7 linked regions of the Homo sapiens genome follow. The protein of the gene in region 6 interacts with the protein of the main gene of each other region in a pairwise test. Each region holds a gene or a part of one and is shown on either strand. Other genes may lie near its edges. The genes, in order: KCNK5, BNIP5, BNIP3L, UPK1B, APOBEC3B, BNIP2 and FRK.

What was found.
Region 1: the proteins of BNIP2 (region 6) and KCNK5 interact in binary tests that used the Homo sapiens proteins (3 or more experiments, as listed by UniProt).
Region 2: the proteins of BNIP2 (region 6) and BNIP5 interact in binary tests that used the Homo sapiens proteins (3 or more experiments, as listed by UniProt).
Region 3: the proteins of BNIP2 (region 6) and BNIP3L interact in a two-hybrid assay, tested with the Homo sapiens proteins (one study listed by IntAct).
Region 4: the proteins of BNIP2 (region 6) and UPK1B interact in a two-hybrid assay, tested with the Homo sapiens proteins (one large-scale study listed by BioGRID).
Region 5: the proteins of BNIP2 (region 6) and APOBEC3B interact in binary tests that used the Homo sapiens proteins (3 or more experiments, as listed by UniProt).
Region 7: the proteins of BNIP2 (region 6) and FRK interact in binary tests that used the Homo sapiens proteins (3 or more experiments, as listed by UniProt).

Annotation. Positions count from the first base shown.
Region 1 is NC_000006.12:39,222,976-39,226,475, forward strand, and holds part of KCNK5 (potassium channel subfamily K member 5), read right to left. Parts: intron 1-3,500. UniProt on the Homo sapiens protein: K(+) channel that conducts voltage-dependent outward rectifying currents upon membrane depolarization. Voltage sensing is coupled to K(+) electrochemical gradient in an 'ion flux gating' mode where outward but not inward ion flow opens the gate.
Region 2 is NC_000006.12:36,334,089-36,338,285, forward strand, and holds the start of BNIP5 (protein BNIP5), read right to left. Parts: upstream 2,801-4,197; 5' UTR 2,624-2,800; intron 2,588-2,623; exon of another isoform or gene 1,562-2,587; intron 1-1,561.
Region 3 is NC_000008.11:26,386,054-26,389,553, reverse strand, and holds part of BNIP3L (BCL2/adenovirus E1B 19 kDa protein-interacting protein 3-like), read right to left. Parts: intron 1-3,500.
Region 4 is NC_000003.12:119,172,246-119,176,397, forward strand, and holds the start of UPK1B (uroplakin-1b), read left to right. Parts: upstream 1-1,352; 5' UTR 1,353-1,393; intron 1,394-4,152. UniProt on the Homo sapiens protein: Component of the asymmetric unit membrane (AUM); a highly specialized biomembrane elaborated by terminally differentiated urothelial cells.
Region 5 is NC_000022.11:38,988,847-38,992,346, forward strand, and holds part of APOBEC3B (DNA dC->dU-editing enzyme APOBEC-3B), read left to right. Parts: intron 1-610; coding exon 611-764; intron 765-2,485; coding exon 2,486-2,780; intron 2,781-3,187; coding exon 3,188-3,303; intron 3,304-3,500.
Region 6 is NC_000015.10:59,679,321-59,682,820, forward strand, and holds part of BNIP2 (BCL2/adenovirus E1B 19 kDa protein-interacting protein 2), read right to left. Parts: intron 3,195-3,500; 5' UTR 3,138-3,194; coding exon 3,088-3,137; intron 989-3,087; coding exon 921-988; intron 449-920; coding exon 272-448; intron 1-271.
Region 7 is NC_000006.12:116,058,092-116,062,116, forward strand, and holds the start of FRK (tyrosine-protein kinase FRK), read right to left. Parts: upstream 2,801-4,025; 5' UTR 2,221-2,800; coding exon 1,877-2,220; intron 1-1,876. UniProt on the Homo sapiens protein: Non-receptor tyrosine-protein kinase that negatively regulates cell proliferation.

The sequences.
Region 1 (3,500 bases), on a different chromosome or scaffold from region 6:
AACACTACTGAGCTGGGCTTTTAAACGTGGCTAAAATGGTAAATTATATGTTTCTGTGTTTTTTGCGTTTAAAAAATTCAGTTGACGTTCTCTCTGTTCTAGGAAGACCTTCCTGATTCTTTGTAATACCAATTAGATTCCCACCACACCTGTGCAGGGACCGCTCCATTGCAGCATAGGAATATCTGGGCATAGCAGAAATGGCAGCTAACACTTAGTGAGCATTTACGATGTGCCATACACTATTCTAAGCAAACTATGGTGTGGCTTCAGAGGCCACTCCCACAACCATCAGACATACTGCTTGGTTGGTGATTCCTTCAGCAACACCACCAAGGCCCCGCAGTGGCAGCTGGACAAAGATCCCTACTGAGGGCAGCACATCCTCTCTCTATGTACAGCCATACTTGGGAAGAACTGAACAGGCAAGGGTTCCTCTGCGTTATTCCAGAGGTCCCTGGGGACTCAATGAAATCTCAAAGAGATTCGCTTCCATCTTCTCCACTCCCTACAAGGAATATTGGAAGGAGGCAAACCTATTTCATGTGCTTTCCTATGGTCTCCTACCTCACTTCTCTGTACCACCCCAGTTCTGGCCAACTGGTTCTTGCAGCACCATGCAAATACAGCATCCCAATTTGGACAAAGACTGTCTTGGAGGCTCCACTCAGGGGCCTGGCTCCTCTGCTCCCCAAAACCTTGCACTTCTCTCCCTCCTCCCACCACCACCAACCACACACACAGTTCAGAGGCTGAGCCCAATCTGCCAGCAAACAGCCAAGTTCAAGATGAAAGCCTTTGGCCCGAGGTCAGGGCCAGCCAAGCACAGCATCCAAAACCGGGGGATTTTGTTTCTTCTAAACGCCAGACTATAAATAGGGCAAAACCCCAGGAAAATATTTAAAAGCAACAATCATCACCTCCTTTGCATCCCCCACCCCCACTGGAAACTTTCAACACTTGCTAATTTCTACCCTCAATAATTCTCTATTACTGTGCCATCTGTAATCATCCTAAGGGTTCTAGTCAAACGCTCAAAGCAATGTAATAAACATTTACTTTCACTGTTAAAAAACTCTAACCAGAGCAGTTAACTAAGGCAGACTAAGGCTTTTTTTTTTTTTTGGCTACCCTCAACTTTTGAGTGGAACATAAATAAGAAACAAGCCATTAGGAAGGGACCTCTTCAATTTCCTCTCAAAAAACCAGCTTATCCACTTTCCACTTCTGCAGTCCTAGCCAGTAAGAACTCAAGCTCGGACCCAAGGCTGTGGAGGCCTCCAAGATCCTCCATAACCAAAAGAGCTATTGTGTTCCTTTTACTTACAAAGGCGGTTAAGTGGACCAGTGCATTTCACAATTTCCAACAAGGCCTGAGACAAAGAGGGTGTTTATATTAACCCTCAACTTTCCAAAAAATTCAATGTACCCCATTCTAAGCATTTTGGCCACATGTAATTTTGTCATATATTTCATGGTTTTATTTTTCAAATCTGGGGAGCAGGATTGGTGTTAAAAGAGTGCCAGAACCTCAAAATTGGAACTAGCCTTACTACTTTGGACTGGAGTGTGTATAGACCAGTCCAAAGGGTCCAGAAAATGAAAGGAGGTACATATGGAAAACCTTAGAACACAAGAAAGCACTTTGGAGCTTAGGAAGGAAGGAGGCCAGTGGGATCCAAGAGGCTTCCGGGAACAGGTCAGCTATATGAGCAGTCAAGCAAAACCTGGACTTTGGTCTGGGATGCTAGACAGAGGGCAGGACCTAGGGCAACCCTGCTCCACCCTCAGGAGACAAGGGACTCTCTAGAGCCACAGCAAGAAACCTGCAGTCTGCCTTCCCCAGGCTAGGAGAAAGGGCCACTCTCCATCTTCTGTTAGGAGTCTCTTCTCCCTTCCTTTACCAGTTAGGTTTTTTTTTTTCTTTAATCTTTTTTTTCTTTTTTTGAGACAAGCTCTTGCTCTGTTGCCCAGGCTGGAGTGCAGTGGCGCAATCCAGGCTAACTGCAGCTTTGACCTCCCAGGTTCCCAGCTGTTCTTTCTAATCCAAGACCCCACTCTGGCTTGAGGTCATCTCCTGAGAGCCCTCCCTGACCCCTCAGGCTGGACCAGACCCTCGTTAAGCGACCTCCTGAAAACCTCTTCTGTAGCCCACACCCACTGTCTTGTTCCCAGTGGGTTTATGTATCCTTTTCTCCAGCAGCTCGGAGTGTAGCCTAATTCTTTGTATCCTGAGAGTCTTGCCCAGTGTCTGGCACATGGTGGATACTTAATAAATGCTTGCTAATTTCCATGTACTTTGAAACATGAAACTTAGATGTGAAAACTGACTCCGCTCTATGTGATCCCAGACAAGTTACACTGGCTTTTCCCCTAATTTTCCTCATTTATGAGGTGGCCTGCAAGATTAAATTAAAATAAGAATGTATATAAAGTGCTTATTCAAAGTGGTCTGGTGCACGGTGGGCTCTCAAATCCTTCCTGTTTCTGATCACTGCCCACCAGAGGCAGAAGGTTGAGAAGGGCTGTCCTTCCTCCCCTTCAATCACACCCCCACTGTTTTTGGTGGGACAGGGGTTGGGGACTTCCAAAATGAGAAGCGCAGAGGGGTGGACTGATGTATTACTTCAGTAACAGAGGTGCTGGGTCAGCCAGGCAACAACACAGGAGACGCCTGTATGCCATTACCTGTGCTAGGGGAAATAGAAAATAGAATTTTCCAGCAGATCAGGGTCCAGCTGAACCAATTTCCTAAGCTCAGTTACAGAGCAACAATCTTCACAGGCCCAAGAGGGAGGTGCAAGCTCCTGGGGCAGACTGCCTGGTCATTGCCCCTCCCCGTCCCGCCCCATAGGCTGTGCCTCCTGTGGTGTCCCTGTGGCCATTCTATCTTCTCTGGGCTTCAGCTTGCTTACTTGAATACATACTGTAAAGAGTACCTGAAATAAGGCAGGTAGGTAAAGCTGCCTTCCTCAATAAATGCTAAGGTCAGGAGACCTGTTCACTTTTTATAGACATCTTGCCTAATGTTTCTACTCTATTGGAGCCTCACCAAACACTCATTTTGCAGATGAGGAAAGGAAGGCAAAGTTAAGTTACATGGCTTGATGGGTAAATGGCCGAGCCAGATGGCAAAACCAGCCTGTGCCCTCTCTCATAAAATGAGGATAATAGCACCCACAATGCCCAACACAGAGTAGGTGTGCTGTAAATGTTAACTTCCCTTGTGTGAGTCTGCAATTTAGGAAGAGGTTGGGAGAATGAGTCACCAAAGATCTTGCTTGAGAGCAAGGGTTCAAGATGGTTCTGAAGACAGGAAAGAGGACGATCACGTGGTCCCAGGCTGGCGGGTCACTGAGCACTTGAAAGTCAGCCTGCACCTCACTTCAACCACAGCGGAGGGAAGGAAGTATCTGACAATTCGGGGGGTATTTCTAAAGAAAGTTGACTTAACTCCCTTTCTCACACATTTGAAAGAGCACACACAACTTTCAGGGTAA
Region 2 (4,197 bases), on a different chromosome or scaffold from region 6:
CAGCAGTATCCTCCTACCACATTCCAAGGACACGCTGCTCCTCCTGATCAGAACATTAACACAATCCCACCAGCACATGCTTTCCCTGATGTTTTTTCAGGAAAGCTGCGGTGATTTGGCCGCTCCCTCCCTGGAATAACCGGTGCCCTGAGCCCCCGGGGAGATGAGAGGAACTAAGGCCAGGAGCCCCCGCAGCTGCTGCTGCTGAGCCCAGAGGCAGGCAGGAAGGGGGCCTCTGCTATCCAAGAGTTTCCCCAGTGAAGAGATTCCAGGGTCTCCCAAGGTTTCCTAATTCCAAATCCAGTGGCCTCTTCCCATGTCTTGTCCTCCCTTACGTGCTTCAGTATTTGATACCAGCCCTACTTCCTTCTTTTCTCTTTCCTCTCTGGGTGGCTGTGACTGTCCTCAGTCCAGCTCTCTCCTCCCTCTCCCCCGCTCCAACTGCTCCTCCTCTGTAATGTTCCAAAGATTGTCTTCAGCTCTAGGCCAGGGATTGAGACAGCGCGGCTGACTGGGGAAGACACACCCACACGCCCCCAGGAAGACCCCTGAAGAACCTCTGCGGATGGGGTGTCCTCAGTCTCTAAGCCCTGGGAAGCTTGTCTTTTAATCCTAATAACCTCCCCTTTCCTACATGTGCCAAAATTAAACCGTTCAAGACTTTCCAAATATAAAATTCTGCTATCCAGGATTTATCAAAGCAAGACTTTCCTTTCCTTTCTTCTTCTTTTTTTGTTTTGTGCCCCAGGTGCTCAACTACGTTCAGTCCGACCACCAGGGAATCCCACCCTGTGCAGACTGTGCTCCAGACCAGGAATCCTAAGTGAGCAGCGTGGTCTCACTATGCGGAAACCCAGCTGATCTTGTAAACTTGTTATTGCCTTGGCCGAAAGTGGATGTCAGAGCAAAGTCCAAATCAGCTCAGAAATACCCAAGTGATCTGCACATCACAAGACTGCTTCTGATAAGATGTGACATTTACCGGTGACATGTCCAGCAACAGCAACAAAGAACCAGAGAAGGCTCACAAAGCTGACCCTGGAACGGGAAGTTTGCTTGCCTTCCCCAAGCTTGCTGCTGTGTGTTGTTTACTTTCTAAGTTGCACGGTGACCTCATCTCTATGCTGTTCTCTAATTTGTTCACCTGGCCGCGTTACTCTCTAACTGCTCTGGTGCCTTTCATGGAGATAACTTCGCGGCTCCCCTTCTCCACCCCATGATTCACACAATAGAAACTTCACAGAGAGCCAACCTGCTGCACACCCACAGCAGCACCCTGAGGGACAGAGTGTGTGGCACACACACGTGGACCCACAGTCAACACCACAGACATCCACGTGTCACCAGAACACACTTGTGCACACCACAGACCAACATGGACTCAAGACGCCCTGTATTTCTCCTGTCCCAAGTGTAAGGGAATAATTATGTGACCAAGCTCACCGCTTGCCATCGGTCCTAACTCTAAATTCCATGAGAGGGGACCTGAGCCTGGGAGGCTCTCAGTGTTTGTGAAACAAACAAATGATACACAGGCATGTGCAAACCCAAACCAGCTCACCTTCATGCAGCCACACGGCGTCCAGAGAGCCGTTTCATTGACATGATCTCATTTCATCTTTGCCAGGAGCAGTGAATCAGATGGGCTAACAGTGGGGCACTGAGGCTCCGGACCATTAAGAGACACGCCCAAGGTCACATAGCCGGGAAGCAGAGAGCTGAGACTCTCCCACTTCTCCCGATTCAAATCCTACATTCTCTATTCTACACCAAATGGCCTCATGTAAGCATAGATACACATGCACGCACTTACACATGGACTTAGGGGAGAAACCTGCTATTTCACACTGATGGAGGTAATCACAGTCACATACACACCTACCATGACCTATGCACATGGAGTCACACAATCACGTGTGCCTAGGTATAGACACCCATGCCCTCCCCACCCCATTCTGTCCTCTATCCAAGACCACGGGCAATGCAACACTGTGTGAGGAGTCGGTCAGGACTGTGGGTTATAATCCACCTCCCAGCCTCTACATTCCCATCCAAGAGAGCAGTAGACCATGAGTTATTTTAATAAGATTTCCCCATTCTTGGACTAACTTCCAAAAACCTTAAAACTCATAGAACCTTAATTTAACCATAGGTCATAATAACACCTCTCATTTATCAGGGGGTTCCCTCATGTACCTTCACATAAAGTCTATAACTTGACCTCTACCACATCCTGAGGGAAACTAGCAGGTGAGCTATGTAATGCTGCCCCATCCTACAGACAAGAAAACTGAGGCCCAAGGAAGTGAAGTTCCTTGCTCAGGGTGGCGGCTAATAAGCAGGATTGGGACTTGAATACAGAGTTTTAAGTCCGAGTGAGCCCAGAGCCCTTTGAGAAACACCCCGTTGAGATAATGTCATTGAACCTTGCTCCCTCTTTTTAGAGATAAGAAAACTGATCCCCCACCTCCACCCCCATTGCCTCTCTGGGAGGGCCCAGCATGCTGGAAGCAGCATTGGGACTGGACTCTTGGTTTGACACCCAGGACTAAACTCTTCTCCGGACCCCAAGATACATACCCACTGCTCCCGCCCCCAAAGGAGAGGGTATTGTTCAACCAACCTTGGACCACAGAAATCGCTTCTGTCCTGAACACCCTGGGCTGGGATCTTCAGACAAGAGGTCTCTGTGTTAGGCTCTGCTCCCTGTCAGCTGGAAGTTGTGTCCAGTGAGAAGTCAGACCCAGCTCTCCCAGGGAGAAGATGCCACTACTTTGGTGCTGGCAATTTTCTGAGTGTCTCAGAAGATGCTTTGGCCGTCCATATATACAGTATCTCCCAGGAACTGAGCTCATGGCAGCCAATCCAGAGAGCCATGGGCTGGCTCACCTTCCTCCACCTGTTACCACCCATCCCAGGACTGCTCCCCGCTCCTCCAATGATAAGAGGCTTAGCTCAGCTACCCTGGAAAAAACAGTTTCACTTGTCAACTTCCTTATTGCACCCAAACCCCAGTAAGAAACCAAAGCTCAGAAAATAACCTAAGGTCTGGCTGGGGAAAACCCCACCTGTAGAGTTGAAAACAAGACTTAATGGGAAATGCAGGTTAGGGGGAGAAAGTCGAGGTGGCTTTATTGCCTTTACAACATCCCTCAGTTATCTTTGAAGATTAGTGGGGAGGGAGGTACCTAGAAAGAAAGGTCAGCGATGGGATACATACATCCCTTGACCTGGAGACAACCCAGAAGGAAGAGCCCACAAGAGCCACGTGTTCCAGATCTGCTATGCCCGGGAAGGGTTGCCATGGATCTTGAGAGAACATTCTAAGAAGTCTTAAAAAGTCAGATTTCCACTTTCTGTAATGCCTTATTTTAAAAAATAGAGTGTAAATACATGTTTATAATCAGAAAAGAAAAACATGTTTTATTAAAATGAAAGCAAAGGCCGGGCACGGTGGCTCACACCTGTAATCCCAGCAATTTGGGAGGCTGAGGCAGGCGGATCACCTGAGGTCAGGAGTTCGAGACCAGCCTGGCCAACATGGCGAAACTCCATCTCTACTAAAAATACAAAAATTAGCCAGGTATGGTGGCAGACACTTGTAATCCCAGCTACTTGGAAGGCTGAGGCAGGAAAATCACTTGAACCCAGGAGGCAGAAGTTGTAGTGAGCTGAGATCGTGCCACTGCACTCCAGCCTGGGTGACAGAGTGAGACTCTGTCTCAAAAAAAAAAAAAAAAAAAAAAAGAAAAAAAAAGAAAAAAATATTAAGAAATTCTGTTTTGGTTCATTAACACAGGGAGGCATCACAAAATATATATGGAAGCACCAAACTTTGGAGTCAGCCCCATCTGGAGACACCTGCCAGCTGTGTAACCACAGCAGGGGACATGATGTCACTGAGCTTGTGCTCACTTATAAAACAAGTAGTCATCTCAGAGGGTAGTTGGGCCAAATGCGATAATGCTTACAAAGAAAAGAAGAAGGCCAGGCATGGTGGCTCACATCTGTAATCCCAGCACTGTGGGAGACCAAGGTAGGAGGATTGCTTGAGCCCAGAAGTTCAAGACCAGCCTGGACAACATAGTGAGATCTTATCTCTACTAAAAATTTTAAAAATTAGCCAGGCATGGTGGCACATGCCTGTAGTCTCAGCTACTCAGGAGGCTGAGGCAGGAGGATTGCTTGAGCCCAGGA
Region 3 (3,500 bases), on a different chromosome or scaffold from region 6:
ACCAATTCCTTAGGACTCTGCTGCCAAACGACACAGTTGTACAACATCTCCATGGCCTCATTCTATACACACATAAAATGGACACAGGCTAGAGAACTCAAAATGGATTAACAAATACAACTAGCAAAGCTAAGAGAGATCTAACATTGAAGATAATTTATCTCGAGTGCCTCTGGAGTGTATAAGAAATACGCCAAAAGCATCCCTAAATTTAGAGCTCTGCAACATATTTCAACTGGAGAGAAAGGGGGTGGGGGAGAGAATATGTATATAAAAACAGTTTTTTTTTCTGACTCTCACTGTTTCTAGGATTTTCAAACTTATTTTTAAACCAATGGGACCAGTTCTTCTTGTATAGAAGCCTAATGTGTACAATAGTAACAAACCAAAACCCAGAGCTGCTCTGACAGAAGCAGAGGTAAGGAACCAGGAGTTCCAGATAGGTCTCTGTGGAAGTCAGTCTTCCCTAAAATACAATTAATATTCACTTGAAGTAGGCAATCGAAGAGAAAAAAGGGTGTAACAAACAATATCAGGTTTTCTGGTCCTTACTTTTGTTTTTCTTTTGAGACAGTCTTGCATTGTCACCCAGGCTGTAGTACAGTGGCACAATCACAGCTCACTGCGGCCTTGATTCCTGGGCCCAAGCAATCCTCCCACCTCAGCCTCCCAAGAAGCTGGGACTACAGGGCACATGCCACCATGCCCGACTTATTTATTTATTTATTTATTTATTTATTTATTTAGTAGAGACAGGGTCTCCCTACATTGCCCAGGTTGGTCTCAAACTCCTGGGCTTCAGCAATCCTCCCACCTCAGCCTCCCAAAGTGCTGGGCTTACAGGTATGAGCCACTGCTCCCAACCTGGTTTTTACTTTTTTGAAGGACTTTCAAATCAATGTCTGGATCCTATTTTCTTCATTAAAAACACATAAGCAATCATAATCCAATATATACTTTTGGAACCTGAAAGAGACATACCTAGAAAAGCTTAGTAAAAGTGATCTCTGCTGTGGCCTCCACACCCTGAATCATAACTGAAAGCATTTCTACTTAAGGCGGACAATTTGTACTTGGGATACACTGGTATAGTGTGGTCAGGGGCTGAGACTGAAGCCAGGCTCCCACTCTCAGTTATAGCTGTTACCCTCGCACAGGGTACTTAACCTCTTTGTGCCTCAGTTTTCTCATCTATAAAATAGAGATAATAACTGTATCTACCTCGAAGACTTTGTTAGGAGGATTAAATGAATATAGCACGCAGAACAATAAGAAAGGTCCCTAAGAAAGTTTTAGCTACTACAATTATATTCTATATCATAGAAAAACCATTCCTTACTGGAAAAATGTGTTCCTAGAAAACGTAAACATCAGTACATAAAATTAAAAATTAACATCTCTCCCAACCTCCCGTTCCTACTCCCAAAGGAGCCACTTTTGACAGTTTCACATGGAGACTTGCAGAGTTTTTGTCAATGAAATATAGGTCTGTTTTTGCTTTTGTTTTTATAAAGAAATGGAACTGTACCATACACACATACTGACATATTCTGTAAGTCGTTTTTCAGATGTCTTCCCTATCAATATATACTGACATTCATTCTTTTGAACAACTGCATTGCATCTCATCTTTTATAAAGATATACCATACTTTAACCATTATCTAAATGGCAATGGTTAACTACTACTGAGATGGTTGTTTCTAATACTTTGTTATTACAATTAGGGCTTCAGTGAACATTCTGGAGAATAATTTGACAATAGGTATTAACAGCCTTAAAAGTGTAGATTTCCTTTAATTAATTAAGGGTAATTCTCTTTCAAAAATATCATCTATGGAAATACATAGTGGTACAGAGAAAGTTATGTACACAGGCATTAAGAGGCTACATATTAATCTTTTGAGTAACACATAAAAAAGCAAATGTGTCTTCCTCAATAGATGAACAACACGTCTGTTTCCCATCACCCGATTTGTTCCTGATTTACAGCCTCAGAATTTCTTAGTGTTCTAACTCTACCAATCCTCACAAAGTCCCTTTTTACTTGGAAAGGAAACAAGGCTAGATAAGAGGTTTGTGCTGTCCAAGCAACACAAAGTAGAAAACAACCACAGAGTGAATTCTCCTCCTAATGATCAAGCTTGAAAACTAAAAGCTGGAAGCTTTCTCCATTATCTAAAAGACTTTACAAACTAAGAGCTGTTCCTTATGCCAATTTGTACATAACATACAATGACATGAGATATTTTCTGGTTTGGGTTTTTGGGAATGACTAAGAGATTCAGAGAAACTTCTGTGAATGCTTCTCCGTTCTCTAACATAATAGACTGTGAAGGGTGGTCCAATAATTGTGATTATACTCATTGCCGTATGTTGTATAATCTTTACAGTTTTATAATCACTAGTTCAATCCTCTTGCAAGAAGAAGAAGAGAGGAGCTTTGGGACAAGGGGAGGAGAGAATGAAGAGTATTTCTCCTCATCTTTCCCCCTAACTTTTCAAGGCCCACATGTAACTCTTTTGAAATTTCATTATATTTACATTCTTTCCTCAAAGCTTTTCATTCATTATTGAAAGGAATCCAGACCAGGCCAACCTGATGCTGAAATCCAGACCAGGCCAACAAGAGTTACTGGCATTCTTCTTAAATAAAAAAATAAATAAATAAATTTTTGAAAAGTTGGTCTTTTTGCAGCAGTATGTATTTACATACAAGTTACGTAGGTATTCAAAACATTATTATGAGGCAGTGACAATCCATGAAGGCCTTAAGAGCACTCTTCATAACAAGAAAGCAAGGACATTGTGCTTGAAGATGTTTCTATTTAAAAAAAAGAGTTTGTGACCAGCTTGGGCAACAAAGCAAAACTCCATCTCTACAAAAAATAAGTTAGCCGGTGACCAGCCTGGGTGACAAAGTGAAACTCGAACTCTACAAGAAATAAAATAATTAGCTGGATGTGGGGGTGCACACCTGCAGTCCTAGCTACTTGGGAGGCTGAGGCAGGAGGATCACTTGAGCCCAGGAGGTCTAAGCTGCCATGAGCTATGACTGTACCACTGCACTCCAGTTTGGGTGACAAAGCAAGACCCTGTCTCAACAAAACAAAAAACAAAAAAGAACAAGAAAATTTGAAAAGAAAAAAAAGGCTATACTTCTCAACAACAAGAATTATACTACGATTTACACTACTACTTTGATTTTCCTTATTCGGCCCTATTGAATCTTATTCAAACATTCTTAAGGAAGTTGATAGTTTTCTTAACAATAAAACAAACTGGACAACATCCTTTTGACTTGGAAGGAGTTTGGGTATTTGCCCTGTAATTTTTAATGAAAGTGAACAGTCTCTCCACAGCGGTAAAGTTAAAAAAAAATCACAAAAATACTTCACTATTCAAATACTTCAGTAATTTGCTATTGAAACCCTGCTTTGACCCCTGAACCAAAGATAAAATCCCAAACGCAAGATAATCTGTACATTTCTTCTCCTGTTT
Region 4 (4,152 bases), on a different chromosome or scaffold from region 6:
CCATTAAATGTTTATCTGTGGTGTCATTTTTAACCATTGCACAGAATTCTATTGTGTGAAATATGATAATTTATCTAACAAGGCCCTGAAGAGCTGCAGAGGAATAAGGCCTTGTGATGGACACAGAGGTGCTCCATGCAGTCCCCCTTGAAGTGGGAGGTTGCCCTGCTGCTGGGAGTACTTGCAACCTCCAGCCTCCAGTTATCAGCCCCTTTCAGGACTTGCCTCAGCTACAGAAAGCTGCCTTCCCAGGGTAATCCACATTGAAGGGCAGATCATAGAGGAGCCCAGTGTCAGAGCTACTCTGACAGGCCATCTTCCTCCAGAGTTTCCTGAGGAGGGCTGCTTAAGACTGTCCCATCTATATTGCAGCTCAACTTCTTCCTCTGCCCAGTCCTGTTTCTCCCCTCTCCCTGCCATGGGTGTTAATCTCAGGGCACTGTCTAATAAATATATTGCACACTAAATTTTGTCTCAAAGTCTGCTCCTGAACAACCTAACCTGCAACAGAGATGATGCTGACCTTTGAGGAACTCCCAAGTCTATTGGTAAAAGCACTCAGTAAATTCTAACATTACTGCAGTTACCGATTCCTAACTCAGGTTAAACAAGCGATGGCGCATGTATACCATGATAGGTTATGCAGCCATTAAAATAATGTTCTGGGTGCCATGTATAACACATGATGGCTCCAGAAGTCAGGGAAGAAGGAAAAAAGAAGGGAAGGGAAGAGAAGAGAAAGGGAGGGAAGAAGAGGGGAGGGAAGAATTGGACATCAGATAATCACTTGAGCCCTCTCTCTCCGTGAATTTTTCCCAATCTGTTTCTTTCCACATCTCTTGCTCCTTATCAGTCTTTGGGCCACCTACAGTATGAGCATTACTTGGGCAATTACTGTCTCTCTGAATTTGGCATATGCAAATTATAGAAACTAAAACTGGACATGGCCCTACACAGGTAAGCACATATCAGCATCGCTGTGAGCGGTCAGGACTAACAAGCCTTCAACACACAAAAGCAGGAGTAAGGATCAAATTACACAAATCAAATCAAATCAAATCAAAATAAAATCCCTGAGTTTGTATTCCAGTAAAGCCCAAACCTAGGAGGGATCCAGGAAAGCGATGAGTGTGGCTGTCAAGGTGCTTCCATCTGTCAGAGTCACACATTCCAAAGCAGCAGAAATCAACTGACAGCCTCCGGTTACTCCCCCGCCTCAGCGAGGCAGGGCAGGCAGCGGAAAGCTCAGCCCATGTGAGGTGCCTCCTGCCAATCACAGACTACCCTTCCCTGGTCCTGGAGGTTCAAAGAATTGCAGGAGGGTAGAAAAGCACCTGGGTCGGGTGCAGACTGCGGAGCGGGCCCTACCGTGTGCGCAGAAAGAGGAGGCGCTGTGAGTAGACCGCTTTCCCTCTGCAGGGAATCTCCCGGGCTCAAGGGCTGGGTTGCTCTCCTGGGAGGGAAGCTAGCAGACTGGGAGGGAAAGGGGAAGAAGTTAGATTCTTGATTCATAAAGTCTGTCATTTTTTTCTTTGTAATTTAGGGTATTGTGACTGTCCTGTTCTCTTTTACTTTGAACCGTTGGAATTGCTTTCTTAATACCCTTGATATAAGTCTTGTTCTCATTAAACTTCTGGAGATATTACGCAGCCATCCTGCTTTCAACCTCAGATATCCCCACAGAAAGAACAAGAAAATCCAAGCACCCCGAGAAACCCTATATCTCCTGATTAAATCGCACATAGACAGTCACCTTTGTAGACCCCCAATTTCCTTGTGGAGTCAGAAAAGCAATAGAAAGTTTAACGAAATAGCTCGTGTTATTTCTTAATAATCTGTTCAGGCTAGCAGAGAGAAAGTTTCTTGGTCTTCTTGTCAGAAATCATTTGGTCCTGCCAACCTGTAATGAAATGTGTGAAGCAATTTACTCCCAGTTATTCTCTGCAAACACTTCTGCTTAATAAATGTGTCAGTTGAAGTAAGTCAACAAAGTAGCTTTATCTACGCAATGTTATTTTTACATAATTTGTTTTTACTCCTTACCAATTCTTTGCTCCACCATGATCTGCAGGACATAAAGATATTTTTCATTCTGATCACATTTTCACACAAAATACAAATTTAAGTTTCAAATAATGCTAGTATTATTTTATGTTTGCATTTGTTTATAAACCTAAAACTCCACTTCTAACTAGTTTTAAAGATTTTTAAGCCATTTAAGAATTCGTAGCCAGTCACAGTGGCACATGCCTGCAGTTCCAGCTATTCGGGAAGCTGAGGCCACGTGATCAGGAGTTCTAGTCCAGGCTGGGCAACATAGTGAGATCCTGTCTCTAAAAAAAATAAAAATAAATTTTTAAAGAAGTTTTGTTAACTTGAATGTCTTCTTTTAATGAAAGACAACGTTTCTTGAACATTTCTTGCCTGAGTTGCTAAGCACAACAGGAAAGAACTCATTAGGTTTTATAGATATACATACTTTGAGTATAAACAAAATTTAGGTTACATAGTTTTCAGACCCTATGAAGAAGTGGATTTTCTTTTTATTAACCTTCTCAGTGAGGAGAAAAATTTCTTACTTTGCTTTCTGCTCCAACAGATTGTTTTGCTTTCTGCTATAAAATAGTCTTTAAAATCAACTCACCTATTTTTTTTTTTTTTAACTGCTGGGAAGAATCATAGACTTTTACATCCAAAGGGGACCTTAGACATCATTTAATCAAGGGGAAAAAAAAGAAACTCAGAACTTTTTTTTTCTTTTATTTTCTTTTTTTTTTTTTTTTTTTTTTTTTTTTTTTTTTTGAGACGGAGTCACTCTGAGGCCCAGGCTGGAGTGCAGTGGCGTGATCTCTGCTCACTGCAAGCTCTGCCTCCCGGGTAGATGCCATTCTCCTGCCTCAGCCTCCCGAGTAGCTGGGACTACAGGTGTCTGCCACCACGCCCGGCCAATTTTTTGTATTTTTAGTAGAGACGGGGTTTCACCGTGTTAGCCAAGATGGTCTCAATCTCCTGACCTCGTGATCCATCCACCTCAGCCTCCCAAAGTGCTGAGATTACAGGCTTGAGCCACCGCACCCGGCCAAAACTCAGAACTTCTTTTTGACTTCTCCTGCTTACAATCTTAACCAGAGTAAACACCAGCCAGCCTTTAAATATGCTCTGGAATTTGTGCCTGATAGCCATGCAGGCTGCCCACAAACTTGATGGGCCACCATTCACCAACTGGGACAGAGACCACATTGGTGAGGGGGCACCATCATCACACACCGCCCTACCCGCCTGCCCACCCCCTCCCCCCCGCCCCAAGGACTCTCCATAGTACTCCTGCCCTGGAGCTGGGCATCTCTCTGGCAATGCCCACACCTGAGGCCCTCGTGCAACTGAGTGCTCCTGAGCCATTGCTTACAGCTAGTCCCTGATTTCCAATGGGTGGATGACTCCCATCATACTGGGAGCACCAGGAATCAAGAGCAGTGCTGTCCAGTAAAACTTTCTGTGATGAGGGAAATGTTCTAGATAATAGACACTAACCACATGTATCTAGGGAGTGCTTGAGATGTGGTTGGAGCAACTGAGGAACTGATTTTTACTTTTATTTAATTGAATTCTTTTGACTTTAAATAACTGCATGCAACTACTAACTACTGTATTAGTCAACACAGGTTTAGAGCTTTAAAGCAAGAAAAACTTATGGGCACTGTGAGCCATGGGTGACAGCCCTGGGAGAAACCTCCTCTTTTTGTTATTTCCAGGGACTTATCCTACCTTAAGTTGAAGCAGACCAGCAATTGTTGTGACCTACAATCTCCACACCCATCTTTACTCTGAGCCAAGGAAGTGTCTGTTCTTGTGCTGAGTTTCAGGGTGAGGGCTAAGGCAATCGCATATTGTGTTTCTTTGTTTCTTCCTCTCCTATTTTTCCTTTTCTTTTTTTCTCCTTTGTTAATTCAAATTTCTCTAGCATGAACTAAAGTTTGAGGTGTGGTTTGTGTGTTCTCTGGTACAACAAACTTGGGTGAGGAAAAGAGGTAATGAACTTGAAAAAATGATCTCATGCTTACTGGGCGAGTCTCACTTCTTTTTCTTCTGCTTTGCAAATTGGTTTGTTTAGTGAGCAATTGTTTTTAGACCTTTCAATGTGTCTGGAAACAT
Region 5 (3,500 bases), on a different chromosome or scaffold from region 6:
GCCTTCAAGGTGGGGCTGGTGTTTCCAGCCCAGGAGTCCTGAGCTGCCCCATCTGGCCTGAGAAGCACGTTTGGGAGACCTCATGGCATCCAAAGGGACGTGGAAAATGCTATGAATTATCCAAAAAGATGTCCCTGGCAGGCTCCTCTCCCCAATGATCCCCCTCAGGAGTGTCCCTGCCCCAATGCTGGGTGTGGTAGGAGTTAACCCTGCAGGCAGGAGGAAGCCCCAGCAGGTCCATCTCCAGCAGGGGCTGTGGGTGAGCAGAGCCAGGACAGGGGTGCATGGTGAGGCCAGGGAAGGAGACCCAGCTCTACCCCAGGGAGAGGGGCAGGGTCCTCCCCGGAGGGCCTGAGCACACTGAGCTGACCCTGGGGAGACCCTGACAAGGCCTAAACAGGCCCCGGGGCTGTGTTGACTTCCTGATAATCCACCAGAAGGGGTCAGAGAGAGAGGATCAGTGGCCCCCACAAAGGGAGTGGAAGCGCCTCCTCTGACAGGTGCCTCAGTATATGGGGAGCAGGGAAGGAGTGGGGGGTGCAGGAGAGGAGCGAGAGGTAGTCCCAGGAGGAGTCTTAGGGCTTTTGGTTTCCCCTGTCTTTGTCCACAGATACCTGATGGATCCAGACACATTCACTTTCAACTTTAATAATGACCCTTTGGTCCTTCGACGGCGCCAGACCTACTTGTGCTATGAGGTGGAGCGCCTGGACAATGGCACCTGGGTCCTGATGGACCAGCACATGGGCTTTCTATGCAACGAGGTGACCGACCCAGCCACCTGCATCCAGGCAGGGCCCTCCCAATCCAGGGACACTCATAGATAGAAGGTTCTGGGTGGTGCCTGTGGTTTCCTGCAGTGTTTGTCACTTGTGCTTCCTGCAGCTGCTGCTGCTTGGCCCTGGAGTTGGGGGGAGACTTTGGCTTCAGTGACTCTCCATGGCCAGGTGGGGTTGAGTCTGCCCAATGGCAAAGTGCTTCCTGAGGACCCTCCCAGGATCCCCTCACAGACACAGCTCTCACCAGGAATGATTCGGAACTGTGGGATTTGAGGACTCAGGGCCTACCTGACTCACAAGGCCAGGATGTCCCTGTGCCCTCTCTTGGGCTTCATCCTGCGGAGAGACAGACTGGGGCAGGAGAGGCTGATCAGGGGTTTTGTCCTGCCCAGGGTGGAGCCCACAGCAAGGCCAGAACAGGTCCCATGTCAGGATGCAAAGATGGCCAGCAGTTGGGGAAGAACTGGGCCAGGAAAGGCTGAGGGGGCCAGGCTAGGCTGGCCAGGAGCCCTGAGCCCAAGGGACTTTCTTCCCTGGCCCCTACCCAGCACAGCCTCTGTCTGGAGAGGCCAAGTTCTGCTTGGCTCTGTTGCTGGAAACTGGGGGCTTCTCTGGGCTCTATGAGCTCAATGTGGGCCTCGCTGGATCCACACACACTGCTTGGAACATCCTTTCAAGGGTGCCAGTCTCCATCACCGCCTAAGCAGTGGGACTCCCCCAGGAATGACCCACAGCCCCTTCTCAGCACAAACCATGTCATCCACTTCACCCTGCATCCCCTCTGATGGAATCCCTCCCTGTCTTTGTCCCCATCACAATCACAGTCCTTGCTGCCCTGCTGTCCCCAACTTGACCGATTCCTAGTCTTAGTGGAAAATCCTTTTCTCTGAAGTTTGGAGTAAATACCATATTTCTATAAGTCAAAATAATGACAATTATACCATGTCACAGGGACCTTCCCACATTGGAGTGAGTCCTGCTGGTCTTCTCTTCCCCACTACTTTTGGTGGAATTCATTTTGGCCTAAGTCTATATCACATTTGGGCTCAGCACAGGTTGTGGCACAGAATAGAAGTTTCTAGAATTATGGGCCACAGATGGGATGGGAGTAGGGGAGTTGATGAGTAGAGCAGGTCAATCTCCCCTTGAAGGAAGCACACTCACTCAGGGGCATCAGGCCAATGACCTTGGGGCTCCGCCGGCCCCTCCTCCCTGCCCCCATCTCTGTAGCCCCTCCCTGCAGGGCTGGGTCTGGGGTGAGGGTCCTGAAGGCTCTGACCTTGGGTACAAAATTGATGGGGGCTCCAAATGCTCAGTAATTAGAGAAAACACATTTTAATTTAATAATTAATGCAATATTTTAAAACGCAAATTTAATACAAATAGATCATGATGAATAAAAGCAAAGATTTTAATAAAGCCTGGCAGGAGAGTGCTGTCCTGTGTATATTGGAGCTGGGGCAAAATAAAACCTCATTGCTCCTGATCTGTTTGTATTTAAATGGGCAACATTTTGCTTATCTTGGGATTTTTGCATAACATCTGATATTTTTAATATTGCATAGAAAATCATGCATCCTAATAACCGGGGTTTTGGCGACCCCTCTAATTTCGTGCTGGAGGCCCCCGCCTCCCCAGCCCCACCTGGTCCAGGCGCTCCCTCCCTGTTCACCACACATCACCTCACACTCTGTTTCCTTTTCTAGGCTAAGAATCTTCTCTGTGGCTTTTACGGCCGCCATGCGGAGCTGCGCTTCTTGGACCTGGTTCCTTCTTTGCAGTTGGACCCGGCCCAGATCTACAGGGTCACTTGGTTCATCTCCTGGAGCCCCTGCTTCTCCTGGGGCTGTGCCGGGGAAGTGCGTGCGTTCCTTCAGGAGAACACACACGTGAGACTGCGCATCTTCGCTGCCCGCATCTATGATTACGACCCCCTATATAAGGAGGCGCTGCAAATGCTGCGGGATGCTGGGGCCCAAGTCTCCATCATGACCTACGATGGTAAGAATGGAAGGTTCAGGTGGGGTGGGGTGGGTGGGGGCAGGAGAGGTTCCTGGGAAGAAAAGGAGAAAGGCCTTGGTCTGCTGCCTGCAGAAACGATGGCTGGACTCTGGGACCTGACTTTGGGGTCGATGGGAAGAGAGAGGCCAGGCCAGGAGATATGGGCCCGGGGAGGGTGGCTGGAAGTGGAAGCAGAACTTGGGGATTTCCGAAAGAAAGAGAACTGGGCTGGCCCAGATTCCAATGGGAAGGAAGTACCTGATGAAGGAGCTAAGTCCCTAGGGGAGGGAGAGGGAAAGGAGGGACTGAAACCAGGATGTGGGAAGTCTGTCCTGAGAGTCATGGGCCCTTGGTGCTGCCCCCTCCCCACAACAGGAGCGTGACTTATCTCCCCTGTCCCTTTTCAGAGTTTGAGTACTGCTGGGACACCTTTGTGTACCGCCAGGGATGTCCCTTCCAGCCCTGGGATGGACTAGAGGAGCACAGCCAAGCCCTGAGTGGGAGGCTGCGGGCCATTCTCCAGGTGAGGGCTTCCTCCCTCTGCCTGGTGCCCCATCGGCCTCCCCCTCCTCCCCGCTCCCCTGTGCCTTGCCTTCCCCTCTGCTCAGAGCCTCCTCTGGGTTCCCTGCTCCCCACAGGGCGCCCAGCTCCGTCCCTCCCTTTCCTTCTCACAGCCTCCTTCTCTTTCCCACCTCCCGCATCCCTCCCTCCTCTCCCGTC
Region 6 (3,500 bases):
ACTTGATTGACTAAAAAAGAGCATGCCATAATTATCAAGAAATATTTTTGAAACAGCTATGAAAAAAACATGAGAGCAGTGGGCAAATAAGAGGGGAAAAAAGCCACTGGTGTACTCTATACACACTTTTTAAGTCCTTGAGAATATTCAAGGGTTAGCACAATTTCCTATCTTAGTAACAAATATATGAACTTTAGAAAGAATGATGTATTTCAAACAAAATCCCTTAGTACATTAATAAAGATCAGATTAAAAACAGTGAAACATTTACCTTCCCACTCAAACTCATTACTATTCTCTGACGGTGTGTCTAAGCCATCTAAGTCAATCTCCCCACTTTCATCCAAATCATCTGACAATACAGAGCCATCACTAGGATCCAGTGTCAGGCTAATGTCTGGAGCCATTAGTTTCTTTCTCACTTTATTTCCATTAACTTCTAGTGAGCCTGGAATTGGAAAATAAAGAAAAAGATACGTAACAAGGAATGCTTAGATGCTAAAGTTGAATAAGAAAAATTTTAACTACCCCATTCTTGGGAAAAAATAATATTAATTGAACATAATTTCAAAGCACCTATTCACAAAATTTTTATTCTGATCATTATTGCTTCTACATCGTTGGCAAGAGATCAATAAAGTATCAATGTCTTTTAAATAGAGGCAGACCTTATAGATACCTCTTACCACTAAAAATGATCTCCTCCACCCCTTTACTGTAAAACTTTCCAAAAACCAAGTGTATGTTTTTGGAATTTTTTTTAAAGCATTCTAAAAATGCTTTCCTCAATGTTCAACTTATACTTTGACTTCTATGATGGAATAAAAACTCAAGTTTTTTTTTTTTTTGGACAAAGAAACGTGTTTTAAAAAATAACACAAAGTCCATAATTTCAATGAAAGTAAGTGTCAAGCTCTTACCAGGCTGGTCCTCTGGTCCAGTTATAGCTAGTATATCTGCTTCAATACTATCATCTTCTGGTAAAGGTCTAGAAGACACAGGCATACTTTTTAATCCAGAAATTAAGAAAGAATTTTTTTTTGAAGTTCAATCTATTAAACATACAGCTTATAGAAATAATTATTTGGAAAATGGAATAAAGCAGTGTTGTTGTTTTTGAGACAGGGTCTTGCTGTCTGTCACCTAGGCTGGAATACAATGGCACAATCATGGCTCACTGCAGCCTTAACTCCTGGGCTCAAGAGATCCTCCCGAGTATCTAAGACTACAGGTGCGTGCCACGACGCTTGGCTAATTTTTAGTAGAGACAGGGTCTTGCTATGTTACCCAGGCTGGCCTTGAACTTTTGGGCTCAAACGATTCTCGTGCATTGACCTCCCTAAGTGTTGGGATTACAGGCATGAGCCACTGTGCCCAGCCTAGCAGTGTTTAAGATAAAGTCTCAGCCTTCTGAGTAGCTAGGACTACAGTGGCACACCAACATGCCCAGCTAATTTTAAAAGTTTTTTTGGTAGAGACCGGATATTGCTATGTTGCCCAGGCTGGTCTCAAGCAATCCTTCTGCCTCGGCCTCCCAAAGCACTAGGATTATAGGCGTGACGTGCTATGCCTGGCTACACTTTCAAAGTAAAAATTCTGACTGTCAGAGCTGACTTATACACTTATTATATATAAGTAACACATAAAAGTAGATATAAATTCCTTATGCAACAGCTCTTATACAATTATAAAACATGTAACAATTTTAAACAAATATGACTGAAATGCACAAATATAATGTGATGTATGATGCAATGTATGAAGCTCAATTTTTACTCACGAGACTACAGTAACAATGGTTCAATTCTTCTGAGATCAGCATTCCTATATTTACTATCACCACCATATGCAACAGTGACTCAGGTCTCCGATCAGCTGTCCAACTGCTAAGCTATCCAACTGCTAAGGCACCTGATTATGCACTAGGATGTCTTCTGACAAGTACGGCACGGAAGCACTATTTAAACTTAAGGTCTGCCTTTGCTCTCTTTTTCATTAGCCTACCTGGTGCCAATATAATTGTAAATACAAATGCAAACATGTCAAGGTGGCTGGCCAGATAAGCTAGAAAATCCTTATTAATTTACTTAGTAAGGTTTTTTTTTTTTTGGTGGGGGGGAACCCACAAATTTTTTTTTTTTTTTTTGAGATAGAGCCTTGCTCGGTCGCCCAAGCTGGAGTGCAGCAGCGCGACCTTGGCTCACGGCAACCCCTGCCTCCTGGGTTCAGGTGATTCTTGTGCCTCTGCCTCCTAAGCAGCTGGGACTACAGGCGAGCGCCAAGCCTGGCTAATTTTTTGTATTTTTAGTAGAGACGGGGTTTCACCATGTTGGCCACGTTGGTCTCAAACTCCTGGCCTCAAGTGATCTGCCTATCTCGGCCTCCCAAAGTGCTGGGGTTACAGGCGTGAGCCACCGCACCTGGCCACAAAATTAAAGAAACATTTTAAAGACAACTAAAGACCTCCTTCTCTGAGGAATCCCTCAGATCTTGTTTAAATGAAAACAAAAACAAAACAAAACAAACAAACCACACTAAAACACTTTATTATAAAAGCAAAAATTTGCAAACTTAAGTGACCAAAACAAAAATGAAAGATTATAGAAGATTATATATATACTTGGTTGGAAAGTAAGATACAAGAGAATCAATCTAACTGTTCCGAAGAAACTTTACTTCCTAGTATCAAATGATCGCCTTGTATTACTGAGTTTCTCAGTGACATCTCAGCTGTGCAGTGGCTCACACCTGTAATCCCAGCACTTTGGGAGGCCAAGGCAGGCAGATCACGAGGTCAGGAGTTTGAGACCAGCCTGGCCAATATGGTGAAACACCGTCTCTATTAAAAATACAAAAATTAGCCAGGCGTGGTGGCGCACACCTATAGTCCCAGCTACCTGGGAGGTGGAGGCAGAAGAATTGCTTGAATCCAGGAGGCGGAGGTTGCAGTGAGCTGAGATCGCGCCACTGCACTCCAGCCTGGGCAACAGAGCAAGACTCCGTCTCAAAAAAAAAAAAAGTAACATCTCGATAAAGAAATTTTGAACTTTTGCTCTAAAATTGTTTTCTTTTAAAAGCATTGCTCACATCGGAAAATCTTCATCTTGCCATTCTTCTTTAAGTTCCACACCTTCCATCCTCAGCCTGGATTCAATGTCAACTACAAACTCTTGATAATCCAGGGAGCCAATGTCCTATGAAGAGAGAAAAATGTATAACTTAATTTCCACTTTACTTTTTATCCACTGAAAAGGCGTAATAATCTTATATATTAGTTCATACTTGATGTTTAGTACAATGGTCTGGTCATGAAATTCATTTACAGGGTTGCAATTTTTTTTTTTTTTTAAAGAAAAGAGAATACTCAGACTACATATATTCTGGGAAAGTTAAATACTGTTTATAGTAAGGATACTGTTCAGTGAAAATACTTGTTTTCAGTTGCATGTATAGTATCTCAGGTTATGATTGAAAATATATTTCATACTATGGATTATATT
Region 7 (4,025 bases), on a different chromosome or scaffold from region 6:
TAAAACTAACAGATTATGAATTCAAGGCATGAAACATTAATATATTATTATTATAATATACATGTTATGCCAAATATAAAATATGCATAATGCCATACAGGACATAGAAATCATAAAGTAGTGAAAACAGATAAATGCACATAAGTGTATCCAATATATAAAGATATTTCCTGTAGATTATCACAGAAAGCAAATGTTCACACAGGTGATTTTCCCACTTGATAACTGATCAATTCCATTCATTAAAAGTATATTTCAATTCATTTCTATTTAAGCATAAATTAAGACCCTTCTAAACATTTATAGGTTCTTGGTGTTGAAAAGAATCTCAAAACTCAAAACTCGTCAAACCTCCCTTCATATGTGATGTATGAGTTTGGAAAGCAGAAACAATGCTCTATGGCTATTTATTATTATCTTATTCCCTGGACCAGTAAGGGACGCTCACATAAAAATAAGAAACACTTACATGAGAACATAAGAGAATCTCCAATGGTTTCCCTATTAAGAAACCATTCTATAAAATGAGTCCATTTTGGCCGGGCGCGGTGGCTCACGCCTGTAATCCCAGCACTTTGGGAGGCCGAGGCGGGCGGATCACGAGGTCAGGAGATCGAGACCATCCCGGCTAACACGGTGAAACCCCGTCTCTACTAAAAATACAAAAAAATTAGCCGGGCGTGGTGGCAGGCGCCTGTAGTCCCAGCTACTTGGAAGGCTGAGGCAGGAGAATGGCGTGAACCCGGGAGGCGGAGCTTGCAGTGAGCCGAGATCGCGCCACTGCACTCCAGCCTGGGGGACAGAGCGAGACTCCGTCTCAAAAAAAAAAAAAAAAAAAAATGAGTACATTTTTTGAAAGACATTCCCAGTCTAAGGTTTCACTGGATTCAGGAAGCAATGAGATCAGGGCCAATGACAGTCTCCATTTGCTTCCCAACCCACCAGACCCCAAGTATCCATTGTCAAGACTATGTTTTATCCACTTTGTATTCAGTCACTACTAGAATAATCTCCTTTACCCTCCCCAACTCACCAGGCCCACTACTGTCTATGCCTGGCACTTGGAGGGGTGGTAGGTGGATGGATGGATGGATGGATGGATGGGTGAATAAGTACATAAAAACTTTCCTCTTTTGTTGCAATATAATTCATATTTCATTCAAATACCAGGATAAAGTCTTTATCTCCTCTTCAAGGAGATGTTGTCCTTTTTCCTATCAAAATTTACCAAATGTCTGTAGCTGGCCAGTTTCTAATCATAATAAAAACCAAAAGATATCATAATTTGGGTAGCATATCTCAGGATCTGGGAATTAAAAAAAAATCTATATCATGATGTCACTGAGAACATTAGTATCTTCTAAGTGTTGTCTTCTACATTAGCCCTGTATATTCCCATCAGAATGAAAGGGATTAGGATTAGAGCTAGGGCTAGAGTTGATATATTACCCTGGAATGTTTCAAAAGTTTTTTTTAAAAAAAAGAATCTGAAGTTTAGATTTGAGAATATCATTAAGGGAAGTCTTATAATTTACCTTCAAACAAAATGCAATTTTATTGCTAAAGTGAGGCATGAGTTATTTTACAGCCAAAGAGAAGGTACAGTATTAAACACATCATTTGTTTATTTTGAAAATACACCCTGGACCTGTGGATGTACATACTGTAATTGAAGTCATCTCAACAACAATTACTGGCCAGTTTCACACTCACTTAGCGGGGGAGGTGTGTTTCAATTAGTGGTTTCTTGCCAGTACTTCCTCATACTTTTTAGGCAACTCTTTGGACATTAGGGGGTTGTAGAGAAGTAGAAAGGAAAACTCATTACCCAGCCCTCAGAGAGTTCAGAAATTAAGTATAAGTTTGTACTACTCACGGCTCTGCCTGTAGGCTTCTGTCCTCAGCCACGTAGTTAGAAGGAATATAGCCTTGTAGTTGCTGACTGGAGCCATCTCGTCTTTTCTCCAAGTGTCTGGCAAACCACCAGCCCTCATGCAAAGTGTCCAGAACTTGAAGTTTGTCACCTGCTCGGAAGCTCAAGTCCTCAGCAGTCCGAGCCTGGTAATCAAACAAAGCCACAAAGTAGTGGCCATGCCTCTGTGACTGGGGAGAGCAAAGGGCCCCTGGATTTTCAATCACGGTTGACTTGTCTGCCTCCGTGGACAAACAGGGGAGATAGGGTTCTAGGTACTCCCAGAGCCTCTGACAGATGTTGCTCATTGTGCCTTGGTGGGGAGAAGAGGAGCAGGGCTTCTCCCTCTCCCCTTAGTCTCTGCGATCCACCTTATCTTCCTTCACCAGGCAACTTTGAAGTCAGCACCAACTCACCATACTTCGGAGAGTATGCAAAGTCCCGTTTCAGATCAGTCCAGCAGCTGGGTTGCAGCAAGTCCTACCTGGAGAGACTTACCGGCTTGCTTTCTGTGGCTGGAGGTGCTACCCCGAGGCAAAACTGAGCAGGAGCTGGGCAGCTGCTCACTAGGAAGGTGTCTTTTCTTCTTATCTGCTTAAGAATCCCACAACAAAAATAAAATAAAATTAAAAGGGCTTTATTTAGACAAATATCTGAGAACAGAATGGTGCCATCTTGCCTTTTGTCCCAATAAAAAGTTAGCAAGAGGAAGCTACTAACCCCTGGTAAAACCTCCACGTCTTGCTTTCGCCAGGAGCTCTCCCCCTGTTTCAAGTCTGTTCCTGTCTTTCGACCAGTCCGGATCTGGACGGCTCTCTCCTTTTTGCTAATGAATAACCAACCAGCAGAGGCTGTTGCCTTTAACATTCTGAGCTATGAACAGACTGTAATAATTTCCCCTTACTTCCTGGTTTCTTTCTGTCTGTGATCTAAATGGTATTCTGACCTCTTTACCCCTCCCATCTCCCACACCCAAGATAGACCAGATCCTTTACCAAACTGTTAAAGCAGCCGCTAAAATCTATATTCCTTTTGTTTCATCCTGGAGAAACAGGCTAGCCCAGGTAGCTTTTTGTCTTGTTATGTTCCCAGCACTGAAATTCACGGCAGAGATTTTTTTCCCTGACAAATAGGAGTAGAATTGTTTTGCCACCACTAGGGGAAATTTAAAAAGGCAAATTAAAGTATTTAGGTATTTCTTGTCAGACACAGAGCAATTGGAAAAGAACCATCAAGTCACTCCCTTTTCTCATTACCAAGAATAGATTTTAATAGCTTCAAAGAATAGTCACAGTCTGGAAAAGTAAGAAAGCAGCTGACTAAAATGCTGAGAACCCAAAATGTTGCTTTTTCCCACAGACATTTAATTTCCTATCCTTCAAGTACTATTTGGGAAACACACACACACACACACACACACACACACACACGCTACACACCAACTAGGTGACCAGTAGAGAAAAAAAGAGTAGAACAGAAAAAGAGCTCTTTGCACACTGCTGTGGGGGCTCTTTCTGCTAAACTTTGACCTCCAGATCTATGCTAGTTCTTACTAACTTGGCAAGAACTCAGGAACTAATGAGACTGACATCAGGACAGCCATCTCTAGACAGGCAGTGGTTTTTGCTTGACCTTCCCTAGTTCGGAGCAGCTGTCTCACAAATATGTGCCCTGGCAAAAACAGCCGGGCAATGAGTCTGGCAGATCAACGTACGGTCATTTATACTAGTAGACAGCATTGCAAACTTGTTTATGAAGTGTCACTGATCTCTCTATAAGACTTTTTTTTTATTTCTTTCTTAAAAACAATCTTTCTAAATGTTGTGAGACCCTTGAACCTGGCTAACCTATTCCTAGTACAAGCTCATAACTTCTGTTCTTTTTCAAATTGCAAGGCATTTAGTAATCAGAATAATCAAACTCAAGAAAAAGGAAGAAAGAAAGGAAGAAAGAAAGAAAGAAGAAAGAAAAGAAAGAAAAAGAAAGAAAAGAAAGAAAGAAGGAAAGAAAGAAAGAAAGAAAAGAAAAGAAAAGAAAAAGAAAATCAGAGAACCATGGCATCAGCCCAACCTGCTATTACTTTGTGCAAAAATCAGTCCATAGCAGTGGACAG